Homo sapiens: one gene and its partner. The protein of the gene in region 1 purifies or fractionates together with the protein of each later gene. This does not show direct contact. Each region holds a gene or a part of one and is shown in the gene's direction. Other genes may lie near its edges.

What was found.
Region 2: the proteins of OLFM3 (region 1) and AGRN purify together in Homo sapiens (affinity purification with mass spectrometry; one large-scale study listed by BioGRID and IntAct). This does not show direct contact.

The regions. Positions count from the first base shown.
Region 1 is NC_000001.11:101,986,927-101,990,426, reverse strand, and holds part of OLFM3 (noelin-3 isoform 2 precursor), read left to right. Parts: intron 1-3,500.
Region 2 is NC_000001.11:1,047,620-1,051,119, forward strand, and holds part of AGRN (agrin isoform 2 precursor), read left to right. Parts: coding exon 1-68; intron 69-156; coding exon 157-276; intron 277-392; coding exon 393-746; intron 747-1,247; coding exon 1,248-1,440; intron 1,441-1,616; coding exon 1,617-1,832; intron 1,833-1,946; coding exon 1,947-2,176; intron 2,177-2,283; coding exon 2,284-2,418; intron 2,419-2,613; coding exon 2,614-2,710; intron 2,711-2,807; coding exon 2,808-2,972; intron 2,973-3,106; coding exon 3,107-3,218; intron 3,219-3,412; coding exon of another isoform or gene 3,413-3,424; intron 3,425-3,500. UniProt on the Homo sapiens protein: Isoform 1, isoform 4 and isoform 5: neuron-specific (z+) isoforms that contain C-terminal insertions of 8-19 AA are potent activators of AChR clustering.

The DNA.
Region 1 (3,500 bases):
ATATTCCACTTACATCAATCAACCTATAACCAAATCTAAAGTCTATTGCGGACCATATATTAAGGACTCCTAATAATAAAAAAGGCTTATCACGTTCCTTCACTCTTGCTGTTTCCTCTTCTCAGCTTTGTGAAAAATGAATATTGTATAAAGTTATCAGCATAGCTTCTCAAAACCAGCCCATCATTTTGGTCAAAGCTCCAATTTAAACTTGTCACCTTACAAGTTTACATCATAATTATATCCAAAAAGGCATATTTTACAAGTTTCTTAGGAAAAAATGTAAAACACGAAGAGTGGCTTCATAATATCAAAGCCCAACTGCATCAAGAAAAGAACTTTTAAACTAATCATGGAGAAGAGATCACATAGGGGAAAGATATATTTAAACAAAGAATCTACCAACAGATAAAACTGTTTTTTATGGCCAGTGTGCAAAGTATGGACTTCTTATGTCTTCACAAACTATGATAATGAGAAAGTAGTTTACATTCTTTTGAAGATTCAAAAATAATATTAAGGAGGGAAGGTCAGAAAAGGGATTTTCTCAAGTTACTCAATCAAGGCAGAGGGTCATGGAGAAAAGACCGCATTTAGGAATATAATTTCTCTACTGTTTCCCTTGGATTGCTCTCTGTCCCTCTGCTTATATTGATCTTCTTGCTCTTCTCAGTAGAGACTTCTAAAGAGTTTTTCAAAAGACCTTGACCCTCAATTAGCTATTGTAATATTTCTGCTGATGTTACTCATCCAGTAGCAAATCCACCTCAGTAGCTCATGAGTTAATTTTTTTTCTTTTCTATACTCAACATGCAAATAATATGAAGGGTAAAAAAAAATACAAAAGGAAATATGTAATATCTAGAATAGACCCCACTCACGAACAACTATTATTTTAAAAATGTTTAAAAATACTTACACACCATACCATAATGAGGTTTAATTTATCTCTGTTACTTTCTATAAGAGGTTGCAGATTATTTGGGGGAATCTAAAATACAGAAATAGCATAAGACCATCTCTATCTACAGTGCCAGGTAATTTCAATGGCAACATTCAAAAATGTTGCTGAAATAATAAAAAATTGATTTTTCCAAGAACATTGATTCTTTTTTGCTTTAAAAACAAGGTGTTGTAAAGCATGTATCACAGAGCTATGCCTTCTGTTATTTTCATACCAAGCCTTCAGAAGTATAAAAATAAGTTTAGAGAGAAGATTGCAGATGCTGTTGTATTCATGGTTTTGCCTCTCCCTGGAAAGCTTTTTTCCCTCTTCTCCATATGTCAAAATTTTACCTATATTTTAGGATGCAACTCAAGTACAACTTTTTCCACAAATTCTTCCCTGACATTCCTTGCACCCCAAGAGTGGATAATCCTGATAAACTAAGAACCCCTAGAATAAAATAATGATGTTTTATTTATATTTGTATCTTTAGCTACAGGTACTGTGTCTGATGCAGAATAGTTGTTCATGAACAAAAGTTGAATTGGATTTCCTCCCTACCCCAAATTTGCAAAACAATTCCTAATCACTCTTTTCTTTTTGAAATAGTATTTAGTGTACACATGCTTTTCTTACTTTATTAGTAGTTATTTTATTGTATCTCTCTTACTAAATTGTAATGTATTCATTTATTGTATTTTATCCCTTCTAATAAATTATAAGGGCAGGTTCAGTGCTTTGGGCACTATCCTATTCTTTCCTATCTAGCAGCTAGCACAGTGTCTTATTGATATAAGATATTTAATAAGTATTTTTTGCATGAAAAAATGAATATATGAAGAATACATAAGTCAAGGAACACCTAATAAACTTGAAATCCTGGGTTAAATGATTCATGAATATAATCTATGTTTTTGATCCATTTTTCCATCAGACAAGATACTGAGGCAGTGAAGTAAGACTGAGTTTAAGAACCTTTAAAGACTTAGAACTCTTATGCCAGGTTACTTATCTTGACTTACGCCAAAAATCAGCTTTCCTTAAATTTCTTGTTAATTTCCTGCACACCCCACTATCCTCAGTGCTATTTTTGACTTGTAGTAGCTCTCTAGGTTGCTGCAACTTCAATACTCCTGTGAATTATCTGTGTTTCATGATGCTTGGTGGCAAAGTTAGTATATCCTCTTAGTGTCCATTTCATTTGCATGGACTTATAAGTCCAAACATTTCATTAATGTGTACATGTTGTTTTGACTACTTTTATTGTATGTAATGTCTTAGCTTTATTTGATAAATTCATATATTACCTATATTTTTCCAACTCTTTTTAAAAGCTGACCTTTTTTTAAGTATCTAAAGGTTCTGTTTAAATTATTATCTTAGTATATACACTTATAATGGTACTGTGCCATATAAAGAAAAGCCATATTGCCTCCATTTTTCTACTACATTATTCCAAGAACATAGCACCACCATCAAGAATAATTTTTAATAATTAAAAACAAATATAAGTATAGTGGAGTCAGATTCATTGGATTTTAACTTCTAAATAGTATCAGAAATTAAATATTTTGTATGATTAACTTTGTAGGTTAAAATGCTCTGGAAAAAATGTCAGTAATAAAGTTGCTTAAATATTACAAATAAACAGACATCTATATAACCCCAAAGGGAGGACATAAATTGAATAGACAAGCCTATTAATTTTTCCAACTAAGTTGAAGATGATTAAGAAGAATTGCCCCTTGATGATTTAAATAATATTACTAGAGGGACCAATTCCAGATGGCAAGATTTCTTCAAATAGAGAATCAGTACTGGAAATGTTGATTAACTAGCACCAAAATGTCACTGGTAAAATATGACTTACAAAAGATGCCATCTCTTCTGGGAGTGATCTACATTTACGGCTGCATCGGGAATTATTTATCTGGAATCAGGACCAACAGTCATTATTTTTACATGTACGTAAGTTTTGTGTCATAATGAAATCTTCATACATATCACTGTAGTAAAAACAAACTGAAATATTATTTGGCTCAAGACTCTCTAAAGACCTCTTATTATACTTATTATTTATAGATGCTACAGATATATTCTACTCTTTATAAGTTGGGTACTAGAAACAGAGAATAAAATGACTTTCATTTGATTGATCTTAAAGTACTCAAGGACTATGCAGAAGGAAATGTAAAAAGAGTAATGCGAAGCTTACGCTGAAGAGATAGCTATTGTAATATAATGACCCCAAACTGAGCAGAAGACATTTGAGGGTAATGAATCAAGTGAATGGAATTAATTCATTGTTTATTCATTGCAACCCTCATTGATGCCAAAGCTTCATGACCTCTTTGTCGGTCAAATCAAGGTAAGACTCCATATCTAAATATTTGTTCTAAAACAAAAATAAAATAAGACTTTGATAAAATTACAAATGAGTTTATATGTAGCATGGAGGTGAGCACATTCAAATACAGTTAAAAGAAAAACAGTGAGGAAAGCTATTTGTTTACGTATCAGGGATGGTTTAAGTTGTTACAGATGATGATTCATT
Region 2 (3,500 bases), about 100 Mb from region 1:
TGTCCGCTTGCGGGACCTGGGGCCCGGCAAATCCGTCCGCGCCATTGTGGATGTGCACTTTGACCCCAGTGAGACCTGCACCCTGGACCCTTCCTGGGAGGCAATGGGTGGGGGATGCCTGGGGCTCTGCCATGCTCAGAGCTCCCTCCTCCCCAGCCACAGCCTTCAGGGCACCCGACGTGGCCCGGGCCCTGCTCCGGCAGATCCAGGTGTCCAGGCGCCGGTCCTTGGGGGTGAGGCGGCCGCTGCAGGAGCACGTGCGATTTATGGACTTTGGTGAGCGCCAGGCCACGAGCCACAGCTTACCTGCCCCCTCCTCTGCCCATGCCCCTGCCCCTCACCCCTTCCTGGCCCTGCTCCCAGGAAACCCTAACAGCTCCCTGTGCCGGCAGACTGGTTTCCTGCGTTTATCACGGGGGCCACGTCAGGAGCCATTGCTGCGGGAGCCACGGCCAGAGCCACCACTGCATCGCGCCTGCCGTCCTCTGCTGTGACCCCTCGGGCCCCGCACCCCAGTCACACAAGCCAGCCCGTTGCCAAGACCACGGCAGCCCCCACCACACGTCGGCCCCCCACCACTGCCCCCAGCCGTGTGCCCGGACGTCGGCCCCCGGCCCCCCAGCAGCCTCCAAAGCCCTGTGACTCACAGCCCTGCTTCCACGGGGGGACCTGCCAGGACTGGGCATTGGGCGGGGGCTTCACCTGCAGCTGCCCGGCAGGCAGGGGAGGCGCCGTCTGTGAGAAGGGTAAGGATGTCCACTGCAGAGGAGGGCGGGGAGGCAGCAGGGTGGGGGCAAGGATTGGGGGTGGGGCTAAGCCACCATCAGGCTTTGAGTTGGGGGCAGGAGCCCGGATTAAGGCGGGGTTTCGGCCAGATGCGGTGGCTCACGCCTGTAATCCCAGCACTTTGGGAGGCCGAGGCAGGCGGATCACCTGAGGTCGGGAGTTCGAGACCAGCCTGACCAACATGGAGACACTCTGTCTCTACTAAAAATACAAAATTAGCCGGGCGTGGTGGTGGGCGCCTGTAATCCCACCTCGTGAGGCTGAGGCAGGAGAATCGCTTGAACCTGGCAGGCGGAGGTTGCGGTGAGCCAGGATCGCGCCACTGCACTCCAGCCGGGGCAAAAAGAGCAAAACTCCGTCTCAAAAAAAAAAAAAAAAAAAAAAGCAGGGGGCGGTTTCAGGGATAAAAGTGGGGAATCCTCGGAGCTTTTCCAGCCGGCCCTCCCGGTCGCCCTTTGCAGTGCTTGGCGCCCCTGTGCCGGCCTTCGAGGGCCGCTCCTTCCTGGCCTTCCCCACTCTCCGCGCCTACCACACGCTGCGCCTGGCACTGGAATTCCGGGCGCTGGAGCCTCAGGGGCTGCTGCTGTACAATGGCAACGCCCGGGGCAAGGACTTCCTGGCATTGGCGCTGCTAGATGGCCGCGTGCAGCTCAGGTGGGCGGGGAGGGGACGGGGCCGGGGCAGCTCAGGTGGGCGGGGAGGGGACGGGCGGGGGAGGGGGGGCCGGGGCAGCTCAGGTGGGTGGGGTGGGGACGGGGGCGGGGCAGCTCAGGTAGGCGGGGTGGGGACGGGGCCGGGCGATGGTCCTGAGCACCTGCTCCTGCCCTCAGGTTTGACACAGGTTCGGGGCCGGCGGTGCTGACCAGTGCCGTGCCGGTAGAGCCGGGCCAGTGGCACCGCCTGGAGCTGTCCCGGCACTGGCGCCGGGGCACCCTCTCGGTGGATGGTGAGACCCCTGTTCTGGGCGAGAGTCCCAGTGGCACCGACGGCCTCAACCTGGACACAGACCTCTTTGTGGGCGGCGTACCCGAGGACCAGGCTGCCGTGTGAGTCCCTTGGAGGGTGGTGTGGCCCCGACCCCGGCCCTTTGGGGTCCCGGTGTACGAGGTGGCTTTGCCTGTGGCCCCTGAGCCCTGACCCGGTGTCCCTCCTGGTGGCAGGGCGCTGGAGCGGACCTTCGTGGGCGCCGGCCTGAGGGGGTGCATCCGTTTGCTGGACGTCAACAACCAGCGCCTGGAGCTTGGCATTGGGCCGGGGGCTGCCACCCGAGGCTCTGGCGTGGGCGAGTGCGGGGACCACCCCTGCCTGCCCAACCCCTGCCATGGCGGGGCCCCATGCCAGAACCTGGAGGCTGGAAGGTTCCATTGCCAGTGCCCGCCCGGCCGCGTCGGTGAGGGTGGGGCCGGGGCGGGTGGGAGTGGGACCCCGGGGCCTGTGGGCGGTACCCAACCGACGCCTCCTGGGACCTCGGTCCCGGTCCCGTCTTCCTCCATCCAGGACCAACCTGTGCCGATGAGAAGAGCCCCTGCCAGCCCAACCCCTGCCATGGGGCGGCGCCCTGCCGTGTGCTGCCCGAGGGTGGTGCTCAGTGCGAGTGCCCCCTGGGGCGTGAGGGCACCTTCTGCCAGACAGGTCGGGGGCGTGGGGCTCTCGGGGCAGGGGGGGGGGGGGGGTTGAACGTTTGGGCGGGTACAGGTTCCAGGTAGCATTGCAGTTAGGATGCGGCTCAGTCTAGTCTGGGTTTTGAGTTAGGATCCACACACGGCTGGCATGGGGTGCAGGAGGCCCCGGGGGTCAGGACTGAGGCCTTGGTGACTCTCCCTACAGCCTCGGGGCAGGACGGCTCTGGGCCCTTCCTGGCTGACTTCAACGGCTTCTCCCACCTGGAGCTGAGAGGCCTGCACACCTTTGCACGGGACCTGGGGTCGGTGGGGCAGGAGCAGGGGGAAGGGCCGGCCCCCACCTCCGTCTCTCCTGTGGGGAGGGGACAGCAAAGACACCCCGACTCCCCATGACCCCAGGGAGAAGATGGCGCTGGAGGTCGTGTTCCTGGCACGAGGCCCCAGCGGCCTCCTGCTCTACAACGGGCAGAAGACGGACGGCAAGGGGGACTTCGTGTCGCTGGCACTGCGGGACCGCCGCCTGGAGTTCCGCTACGACCTGGGCAAGGGGGCAGCGGTCATCAGGTGGGCCGGCAAGGGTGGCTCTGGGAGGCCTGGGGCACTGGCCCGGGGCCGGGGCACCAGCAGGTCGCTCAGGCCCTGGGTGGTCGCGTGGCCGGTGGTGGACAGAGCCCACTCACGCTGCCCCTCCTCACCAGGAGCAGGGAGCCAGTCACCCTGGGAGCCTGGACCAGGGTCTCACTGGAGCGAAACGGCCGCAAGGGTGCCCTGCGTGTGGGCGACGGCCCCCGTGTGTTGGGGGAGTCCCCGGTGAGTGCTCTGGGCCGCGAGGGGACTCCCGCTGCTGCCTGCTCTTCCTCCTCGGGCGGCAGCCCCGCCCCTGCCGGCGCTCACGGAGCTGTTTTTCTGTCCTGTTCTCTTGGCCGCCTGCCCTGTCCTCTGCCTCCTCTGCCTCCCTGCTCTCTGCTCTCGCTCTGCAACCCCACCCGCTCTTCGGAGGCCAGAAATCCCGCAAGGTACTGTCGGCCTCTCATCCGCTCACCGTCTCTGGCGCCTCAACCCCTAGGGTAGCTCCTCCCCCACTAAGGACCC